Linked DNA regions of Homo sapiens: region 1 is linked to region 2. Evidence: fine-mapped expression QTL. A gene starts in region 2. The other region holds a variant in brackets. All regions are shown on one strand. Distances are between the middles of the regions. Region 1 holds the start of ZFP28 (ZFP28 zinc finger protein). Region 2 holds the start of ZNF470-DT (ZNF470 divergent transcript).

Region 1 (5,370 bases), 28 kb after region 2:
AAACTGCCCCAAATCCTTGCCTATGAAGTAAGGAAATGAGACAAGAGAAACTGAGATAAATTAAGTAAAATACATTTGACCTTCGAACAACATGGATCTGGGCTGCAAGGGTCCACCTATATGCAAATTTTTTCAACCAAATGCAGACTGAAAATACAATTATTGTCTGGGCGCGGGGAATCACACCTCTAATCGCAGCAATTTGGTAGCCCAAGGCGGGCGGTTGCCTGAGGCCAGGAGTTCGAGACCAGCCTGGGAAACATGGCAAAACCCCATCTCTACAAAAAATACAAAAATTAGCTGGGCATGGTGGCACATGCCTGTAATTCCAGCTACTTCGGAGGCTGAGATGGGAGCACTGCTTGAGCCTGGGGAGGTCAAGGCTGCAGTGAGCCGTGATGGCACCACTGCACTCCAGCCTGGGTGACAGAGTGAGACCTTGTCTCAAAAAAGATTATTTGTGGTATGGAAAACCTGTGTCCACTGAGGGCTGACTTCTCATATCTGCAGGCTCCACATGGCTGATGAATAAGTGCAAATTTTGGTATACGTGGGATTTCTGTATATAGTATGTTGAAAAGTACTACGAGGGCCAGGCACAGTGGCTCATGGCTGTAATCCCAGCACTTTGGGAGGCTGAGGTGGGCGGATCACTTGAGGTCAGGAAATCGAGACCAGCCTGGCCAACATGGTGAAACCCTGTCTCTAAAAAAAAAAAAAAAAAAAAAAAAAAAAAAAATTAGCCAGGTGTGGTGGCTACTCGGGAGGCTGAGGAAGGAGAATCATTTCAACTCAGGAGGCGGAGGTTGCAGTGAGCCGAGATCACGCCACTGTACTCCAGCCTGAGTGACAGAGCAAAACTCTGTCTCAAAAGAAAAGTACTAAAAGAAAAAAGCAAAGCAGGGAAGAGGGATGTGAAGAACAGGTAGGAGGCTCTGAAATTCTAGACAGGGTGAGCAGGAAAATGAGAAGGCGATTTTTCAGAAAGAAGAGAGTGATGTAGATGTCAGGGGTAACAAGGAGCCAGGTCATGTAGGGCCTGGTCAGTAACAGGAAGAGTTTTGGCTTTTATTCAGAGAAACCACTGGAGGGTCCTGAGCACAGCGTGACACAAGGTGACATGTTTGAATAGACCCCTCTGGCTGCTCATCGGGAAGGGGCTGTGGGGAGCGTGAGCAGAAGCAGGAGGTCACAGAAGCACAGTCAAGAAGCCCACAGTAAAAGGAGGACTTGGACCTGCTGCTGGTGATAGATGTGATGAAAACTGCCAGATTCTGCACATAATTTGCAAATAGAACTGACAGGATTTGCATCAGGACCAAATATGGAAGGAAAAGGCAAGAAATGAGCCAATCATGACAAGGCTTCCGGACTGAGTAACTGAGAGGATGAAACGGCCACTGACTAAGACTCAAACTGTGGGAGGAGCTGGTTTATGGGAGACTCTCAGGACTTCGGGTCTGGACAGGCTGTCTTGAGTTACCCATCAGACACTCAGGCAGAGGAGTGGAGCAGGATACACAGGCCGGCGGCTCAGAGGAGAGGTTTGGGCTCACAATGTGAATCTGGGAGGAGCCACCATGTGGGTAGGTTGTACAGACAAGGAACAGGCTACTATCCCCAGGAGACAGCATGCAGACAAAAAAAGAAAGGGCCATGAGCAGAGTGCTGAGGCACACTCTGTTCAAGTCACGGAGGTAAGAACTGTGGCAAAAACTGAGCAGTCAGGAAGATGAAAGTCAGATGAGTGTGAGATCCCAGTAGCCAAGGGAAAAAAGGGGGCCTATTGAAGGACAGGGATGAGCTATTTGAGGGATAGGTAGCCACCTGTTTTGTAACTGAAGTTTTACTGGAACACAGCCCATCCATTCATTTACATATTGTCTTTGGCTACTTTAGCTCTATAAGAGCAGAAAGGAGTAGATGCAGCAGGACTTTCAAAGCCTAACATATTTTCTGCTGTGGCCTCATCCAGCACAAGTTTGCCAGCCTCTGAGCTATTTCAAATACCAATGATAGTCAAAAAAGACTAAGAATTGAGCACTGCATCTGGTAATGTGAAGATCACAGTAACCCACTCAAGAGCAGTTTGGGTAGGACAACTGGAAGCTGGTTCATCTGTACATATATTTTTTGAGGCCTCAGTGGAAGTGAAATGGTTCATCTATTAATGAGCTAGCTATGATATTTATAGGAGAAGCCAACCGAAACAAACACAACTATTTACTGGCATGTTTTAAAGCCACAAAATCAAGTGGAAAAGCCTTTCATATTGCGCCTCCTCTCCCTAAAATGTTGTCTTTCTTTACTGTGCCTCCCAAACATCTTCTCTCCCTTCAAGGCAAGGCTCAAAAATCACCTCCTTGGTAAATAGGCCTACCCTTCCGCTACAGGAGGCTGGAAGCCAGGAGCGCCTTGTAGTCCTCGCTCATAATACTTGGCCCAAGGATGATCACATTCTAGAATCTTGCTTGTTTCCTTGACATTGGGTCAACAGGCTGTGAGCTCCAGAGCAGGGACTAGGGCTTAGCTATTGGTTTGCTCAGTGGCTGGCACAAAGTGGTCACCAAACAAACCATGTATAGCAGAAG[A/G]GTCTGCCGTGTTCCTCAAGGGGCACAATTCCTCCATCAGAGTCCCTCTGAGAAAAGCGGTACAAGGGAGAGGCTGAATCATTTCATCAATCAAGAATGAAGGCTGATTGGGATGAAGAAGAAGCAGGCATCGAGGCCCCGGGCAGTTTAAACTTTTCCCCGTAGCCCATCACTTCACTAGAACGTGAAGAAATAGAAACCCGCGCCCAAACAGGTCTCTTAAACTGAAAACTTTCAAGAAAATAAGCAACATTAAGTCCCGAAAAGCAAGACTGCATTTCAGAGACAAGAGATGAAATGCCAACTCACCTGGGACATGGCTTTAGGTTCAATTCCTGTCCCCACAGCCTCCAGCTTCTTGTTTCTCTCCTGGGGAAGAGCAGTGTCCCTGGAAGGCAGAGCTGAAAGAGAAAGGAGTAGCTAGAGACCAGGTCTACACCACAGTCCCAAATCACCAGCCTAGAAACGTCCCTTCCTGCATGAAAAGGTGGGATCAGATCATTACCCTGCCTAGGGACTGCCACAACGTGGAGATAGGTTTTTTTCCTCCCTGGGAGCACGAAAACAGGAAAAGCGTCTAGTTAGAGTCACCCTGGGAAAGTCAACACCCTTTTACCGCGGCTTGCTGCTCTGAATCAGTTGAGCTTCCAAATCTTCAGATTCTCCCACTCCACCAGCTTCAAAGACCAGGGGCACAGTTCTCCAGCAACTGGTCCCCGAGAGCCCAACCCCCTCCCAGATCTCATCCCGAGATGAATTCGTCCCTGTCCGCTCGGCCCCAAACACCTGTCACTCTCACCTCTGTGCCCAGGCCCCGTAGGGGCCGCTCCTCGCTGGCCTTTGGATGCGAGGCCATTCCTTGAGCGCGGCCTTCCCCGGGCAGGGAGGGCCAAGGTGGCTGGAGTCCCTACAGTCGGGCCTCGGCCCGCCCGGGGCTTTGTGCGGGGGGCGCCTCTACCCGGGAGCGGCGTCGGCTCGCGGACACTCGCGCTCGCCGCCCCCCGCATGTCACCCGAGGCCGCGCGACGCCCTTCCGACCGGTCCCTCACAGACCCACACCCCTGGCCACACCCGCCCGCCACGCCCAGCGAACAGCCCCGCGCGCGCTCCCCCATGGCCCGGCATCCACTGGGCCGCGCCGCGGAGCCGCCCCGCCCCCGGCCGCGCCCCGCCCCTCCCCACCCCTCCCCGCTGCCCCGCCCCGCCCCGCCCCGCCCCGCCCCGCCCCGCCCCGCCCCGCCCCGCCCCGCCCCGCCCCTCAGCCTAGAGAAGCCCGGCGCTTCCCACTTCCAGTGCGCAGGCAGCGCCGCCGGAACCGGGCGTGGCCTCGGCGCAATGCCCGCTGGGAAGCGTAGTCCCAAGCAGGGACGGATGCGGCGGCCCTCGGAGCTCAGGTTGCAAGATACGGTTTGGCCCCGGGCCTATGCAACGCCCGTCCGTCCTGCCCTCTGCGGGTCGCTCTCACTTGTCCCTGGACCGCAGCCGCCGCATAAGTGGTGGCCAACGCTGGGCCTGGGTGTGGCCGGAAGCAGAGGCCGCTCTGACTACACACCCACCCCCCAAAGGCTTCTGGGAGTCGCGCAGGCGCAGCGGCAGACCGGGTGAGGCGGGGCTTGCGGCGAGGGGTGGGACCGCAGGGCCGGAGTAAAAGGGTGCTTGGCTGTGACAGGTGCTAAGGGCCTGGGCGTCAGCTCCTTGCGGGAGCGTCACTGCCGACCGGGAAGGGAAAGGCAATCTTGGGGGCCTCCGGAGTCCGGAGGATCACTCTGATGGGTGATGTGTGTGGGCTAGGAAGGGGGATGTAGAGAGCTTGTGGGATTGTTTTGGGTGCCCCCTCACCTTCTCCCATTATCTCTGGCTACACGGGCCTCCCATCCTCCAAAATACCATTTTCCATTTTGTAACCTATGTATTTGCACGTCCTGGGTCGAAATAGTCTAACCCCAAATTTTCGTCTGGGCTGGCTCCTTTATGCCATTCACTTGTCATCGCCTCAGAGAGGGCTGCCTAACGTCTCAAAAATACCAGCCCTGGCGACCTCTTAAAGTTCCCTTCCTGTGTGAATCACGGTCTGAAGTTAGCTGATGGATTTATTCTTGAACATGTTTAGGACCGGTCTCTCCCCCAGGGGCCTTATCAGAACTGGAGAGCTTCATCCTGGGAGCCAAGGGCCTTGCTGGCTCACAGGCAGTGATGCTGTTACACCAGTCATCACAGATGCACTGACCTCTGCACGCCCAGTCACACTGCACGCCTGGTCTCCTTACTCTTGAATTGATTTCTTTCAGGTCTCCTGGCCTCAGTGATGGAATTAAGATGACTTCTATCTCTGAATCCAAGGGTGACTGAAAGCCGCAAGCTGCAGAAAGGACAAGGTCAGCATTTCTCTCAAAGCACTTCAGTCTCATAGAAAAGGCTTAGTTTCAGTCAGGTGGACCTAGCCATGTAATAGCTGTGGCAGACACTGCTAATGGTCTCTCTGGTGTCTATTTTGCACTCCTTCCACAGCAGAACATTGATGCTCTTCAAGTGGCCATCTGCCCAGCTTATAATACTCACCTCCCCAGTCTCCTTGTAAGGAGTAGTGGCTCTGTAACCAATGAATTTTAAGTACACATTTGCTGGGGGTTTGGTGGATGTGTGGAAAGAGACACAGCTGGCATGTAACTCTGGCCTTTTGTCATCTCACACAACCTTCTTCCTGCTTGGGTATGACACAGGATGTCAACAGGTAGAACAGCTGTAGAGAGCTGGCAAAGGGATCGTGGCCAACTCAACA
Region 2 (5,370 bases):
GAGCTGGGGAGAAAAAGAAGTAGTGAGAAACCAAGTAGCACTAATAATCAAAGTCTGAAAATGCTTTCTTCCCTTCAGCTTCTTCTGTCCTCACTCACAGTCCTCACTCCAACTCCCCCACCCCACAGTCCTGATGCTCTTTGGGAGACTTGAAATATATAGCTGGGGTTCCCCTCTGCTCTGGGTTTTCAGGATGAGCATAATATCTCTTGACCCCCTCTCCCCATCAGCCACCAATTCATTAACAACAGATTTATTAATACTAGCCTGTGTGTGTGTACATTTTTTTTTTCTAAGACAGGGACTCACTCTGTTGCCCAGGTTGGAGTACAGTGACGTGATCATAGCTCACTGTATCTTCAAACTCTGGGCTCAAGGGATCCTCCTGCTTAGGCCTCCTAAGTAGCTAAGATTACAGGCATGTGCCACCATGCCCAGCTAGTTTTTTTACTTTTGATAGAGATGGGGGTCTCACTATATTGCCCAATTGCTCACTATATTGCTTGAGGCCAGGAGGTGTCAACCTCCTGGAGTTAGGTATCTGGTCAACCTCCTGGCCTCAAGCAATCCTCCTGCCTTGGCTTCCCACAGTGCTGGGATTACAAGCATGAGCCACCATGTCTGTGCTGCATATATTAATACTGTCTTTAAATCTCCAAAATCTTCAAACAGAATCGGGTATATTGTCACCATTTTACACAAGAAAGCTCTGGGAAGTCAAGTCTTTTCCACAAGTCACACAAATTTGTAAATAACCTAGTCACCAACCTAGGTCTGGCTGACTCTATCACAGAAGTTATTTGCTCATATACCAGAAAATAACAGAAAATAAGTCCTCTGTGCAGTTGGCCAGGATTTGTGAACATTCTATAAGACAAATTCCATGGAGAATTCCATCTTTTCCAGAGAGAGGCATTCCTTTCGTTACAACAGAGTCCATGTGACTTGCAGACAACCAAATGAAAAAATCCTCATGAGGCCTAGGATCTCATTTTGTTTTGTGACAAACTACAGTGTTGAAGCAGTCCCTTGACTCCACTGAGCCATGTTTCCTTAATTAGGAAGGAAGAGGATAAAGTATCTGAATTAATTCTAGTTTCTTTCATCTAAATTCCACTGCCTTCTCAAAGGATTATCATAATGATGATAAAAATGAACACATTACATGGCAGGGACTATACCAAGTGCTTTACATGTATGAGGTCATTTAATCCTTATGACAGTACTGTGAGGTATATAATATTACCATCTCCATTTTACCTAAGAACTTAGAGTCATAAACTTTTTAAGAAAAAAACCCCAAACCTGCTCAGTGGAGGTTCTGGCATATGAACTATTTAGTTATTTAACCCTTTCAGAGTCAGTTTCTTTAATTGTCAAAAGTGGCTAAGAAACCTACCTGAGGCAGTAGTTGAGGAAACTACATGACAGCCAGTGACTCTGGAGTCAGCCTGTTCTGGATCTGAATCCCGGTTCTTCCACTTGCTAGTGATTACTTATCCTCTCTATGCTTCTGTGTCTTCATCTGTAAAAAAGAGGTAAGTAGTTCCTACTTCATAATGTTGTGAAGTTTGGTGCTGATACTCCCAAAAGGTCTTAGAACTGTGTCTGGCACATAATAAACACTCATTAAACATTAGCTATTACTATAGCATGCAGGAAACTAAACAAGCACAGAACAATATGGCTAAAAATAGCCCTTCCTCCCCCTTTCTCTTTATTGGAGTGGGAGGCCAGAGGGGAGGGAGAGAAGCCCAAGGAATGGGGATATCTTCCGTTATTGACTAGAACGTGATTAAGCCATAGAAAGGCTGGAATGCCTCGGCATTTCTGGGTGAAGCTGTGAATCTCGCCTTCTTCCCAAATCCTACAGTGATAGATGGGACAAGGCTCTGACGGGTAAAAATCTAAATGCTGAGCTATTCCTTCAACAGCAGCAGAGTACCCAGAAGTAATGCTATAATGGGTAATATTACGGGTAGTGTTCTCTCCCATGGGCCCTTAGTGATATACCAAGGACCTGAGTCAGGTTATCTGGTTAGGTGTCTCTGGCCAAGTCAAGGTCCCTCCCTAACTAAACCCAGCTCCACTCTGACCCAAGGTGACCCTCCAAATCTTTCGACTTCCAGGTCCACTAGCCTTAGAAACGGGGGACATCCTCCTCCAGCACCTGAACCCCGAAAGACAGCACCCAAAACCTCAATGTCCACTCCGGCAGCCACATCCGTCATCTGTCACTCTTACCTGTGTACTCAGTCCCCATGGTCTTCGCTCCTCGCCGTCCTGTGGACATGGAGCCCTGTCCTGGGCTCTGCCCCTTCCAGATAGGGCTGACAGGAAATGCTTCAGCCGAGGCTGCCCCGCCCGGGCAACTTCCCCGGGCTCTAGGACTTTGCCCACACTGGGCTCTACGCAGTCGATACAGGGGAGAACGGGGTAAGCCTCCTCCGGCCGGGTTTCCTGCTCTTGGCCACTTAAAGTGCTTCACTCATTCCAACACACACCGCCTTCCGCACGCCGCCGGGCCATGCACGCAGGCGCAGATTCGCGGCCACGCACCGGACAGTCACACACCGGGCCGCCATCCCCGCGCGCGCTCGCCCCTCCTCAGCACAGCACCGCACGCTCACCACGTATGGGCACTCACAGCCACCAGGCCACACGCGCACGCTCACGCCCGCCGCCCACACAGGAACCAGGACACCGCCCCCGCCGCGCCCCAGTCCAGCCTCGGCCGCTGCCCCGCCCAGACCTCCCTTCTCCTCAGCAACCGGCGGGACGTGCACTCGCCCGGCTTTGGGTCCTTTCCGGAAGTGGGCGTGTCCTCCGCTGCAATAGCCCCTGGGAAGTGTAGTCCGGAACGGAGGCGGCGTTCAGAAATAGGGCGCTGGCTTTGCCAGGAGCGGCTCCTCTCCAAGCCTGGCGGTCACTGCCCTGTGTCCCCTTTTGGGCCTCTCCTGGTCCTCCTGGTTGGATTAGGAGGCCTCTCAGCCCGGAGTCTGGGTCGCCGAAGTACAGGCCCCTTCACTGAAGCGACCCACGGCGCAGGGGTTTCTGGAAGCCATCGCCAGGCTCCGAGTGTTCAGATGCAGCTGCCAGGCTCAGGACGCAGAGAACTGGCTTCCAGCTCGCAGGAGCGCCTGTCCGTGGTGGGTAGGGTCGCAGGCGTGGGGTGTGCAGGAGCAGTGGGACAGCACTGAAACGCAGTCGGTAAGGCGTAGCGGCTACCCTCTGGAGAGGAAAACCATGACAGGGCGGGGCTTGGGGCGCGGGCGGGGCCTACGCGATAGAAAAGTGAGGAGATTGGGATTTGTCTGCTTTGCACACTTGTGACTTTCTGATGGTGCGCGTGTGGAACCTGTTTTATTTCATGCCTACTAGTTACTGCTCTCTGATATACGGTACGCCCCTCACCTCCCCCCACCCCATTTTATCTCTCCCTGCTGGAAGGAGGGTTCCAAGAAGGCACACAGCTTCCGTCCTGTTCAGGGTTATATTCTCAGTGACTAAAACAGCACATAGTAGGTGCTTAGTTTTTTATTTTTATTTTATTTTTTAGGAAATCACGAAATCTAGCATTGCCAGTCTCACCATGACACAACATGTTATAGGCTGAATATGTCCTCCCAAAATTACTATGGTGAAACCCTAACCCCTAGTGTGATGACGTTAGGAGGTGGGACTTTGGGGAGGTAACTGGTTTTAGATTAGGTCATAAGGGTGATACCCTTATGATGGGGTCAGTGCACTTATTAAAAAAGAGGAAGGAGGGGTCTCCATGTTTACACAACCACCAAGCAAAGGCCATGTGAGGACACAGCAGGATGTAACCCATTTGCAAGCCAACGGGGCCCTCACCAAGAACTGAATGTGCCAGCACTTTAACTTCCCAGCCTCCAGAATTGTGAAAAATAAAGTCTCTTAGTCAAGTCACTTAGTCTATGATATTTTGTTATAGCAGCCCCAGCTGACCAAGATACAGCATCATAGATACTGGCTCACCAGAAACTAACTCACCCTCCCAGTCACACTCAATCACCCAAGGCCACACAGTGACATCTAGACTGGACTCTCCTGGATCCAATTTATGTCAGACATCATAAACAACATAATAAAGCCAAGTCTAGCTGTGAAGATACTTTAACTATGAAACAGCAAATATCATCTTAGAGCTTGTAACGTTTGTGGTTATTTGAGTTGGATGAAAATGATAATATTCTCATTTTAGCTCTGGCATATAAAGAGCTCGGAAGCCTTCATTCCCATCTTCACAACAACAAAATCATTCAACAAACTGAAAATCAACTTTTCTTAGATCCATCAGAGAACTGAAGATAGAAAGGTAACTGACACCCCAAAATCCCGAGAAAGAAAAATACATAAAATTACAGCCAAGATTAGCTTACTTGAAGCAGAAGCCACTGGAGTTATAAACTGGTAAAAACTTTTATTTTTTATAATTTTGATGAATTGCTGGAGGCTTAGTGTGGGCTAACTTGTGAGTTAAAAACTCCTAGGGGCCCAATCTTAGATGGGCCCCCACACTTTCGTGAATTTTACCTCCAGAAACCCTATCAAATTCTCTCAGTGAAGAATGGGGAAAAATCTCAGGTTTTTGGGCAAGGGGAGGAGAAAAGTAAGCACCACATTTTCCATAATAAACACCTGCACTCCAAGAAAAACTACTTACTAGAGTCTTGTTGGACCTTGGGGAGAGGCAATTGGCCAGCTCCAGTCCCTCTATAGCCTGTCTGTCTCAGTAAGGCAGGATTTTTGAAAGGCTAAGAAGTGCTTCTGAAGATCACAGTCCAAGGCCTCAAGCCCACTAGAAAAATAGTATTTAATAATAAGATTATAGAATGCTTCCCTCCCCACTGTACCTCACTGCCACACTAATGGGGCTCTGGTCAATAACAGTAGATTACAACAGAGAAAACTGCAAGGCACAGACTCTATTTAAGAAGGAGTTCTTAGGGAAGCCCACAGAAGGAGAAGCATCTTGGAAAAAGTAGACAACATGCAAGAACAGATGGGTAATGTAAGCAGAGAGATGCAAACTGTAAGAAGGAATCAAAAGGAAATCCTAGCAATTGAAAACCATTGTAACAGACATGAAGATTACCTTTAGTGAGCCCCTCAGACTAAGACACTCTGAGAAATGAATGGGTGAGCTTGAAGATATGTTAATAGAAATTTCCCAAACTGAAATACAAAGAGGAAAAAAAAAGAATGAAAAAAGAAAAAGAACAGAATATCCAAGAACCATGGGACAATTACAGAAGGTGAAATATATGCGTAACTGGAATACCAGGAGGGGAAGAGAGAAAGGAGAGAAAATATTTGAATAATGACTGAGAATTTTCTAAAATT

Evidence for each region. PIP is the estimated chance that this variant, and not a neighbour inherited with it, causes the effect.
Region 1: its variant is fine-mapped to the expression of ZNF470-DT in whole blood (TOPMed, PIP above 0.99). The same link has a PIP of 0.9 or more in caudate.

Annotation. Positions count from the first base shown.
Region 1 is chr19:56,537,247-56,542,616 of GRCh38, reverse strand. ZFP28 (ZFP28 zinc finger protein) reads right to left here and starts at 3,669. Exons shown (of 8, transcript NM_020828.2): 1 at 3,391-3,669; 2 at 2,901-2,992. The coding sequence starts at 3,598. It overlaps ZFP28-DT (ZFP28 divergent transcript), which reads left to right and starts at 3,883. Exons shown (of 3, transcript NR_183967.1): 1 at 3,883-4,192; 2 at 4,880-4,966. The variant A/G (reference allele first, on the strand shown) is at 2,592.
Region 2 is chr19:56,564,913-56,570,282 of GRCh38, reverse strand. It overlaps ZNF470-DT (ZNF470 divergent transcript), which reads left to right and starts at 2,262. Exons shown (of 2, transcript XM_047439806.1): 1 at 2,262-3,210. The coding sequence starts at 2,262. The coding sequence ends at 3,200. It overlaps ZNF470 (zinc finger protein 470), which reads right to left and starts at 2,815. Exons shown (of 6, transcript NM_001001668.4): 1 at 2,245-2,815; 2 at 1,400-1,525; 3 at 1-3. RefSeq lists enhancers at 2,376-2,485, 2,866-3,075, 3,086-3,135.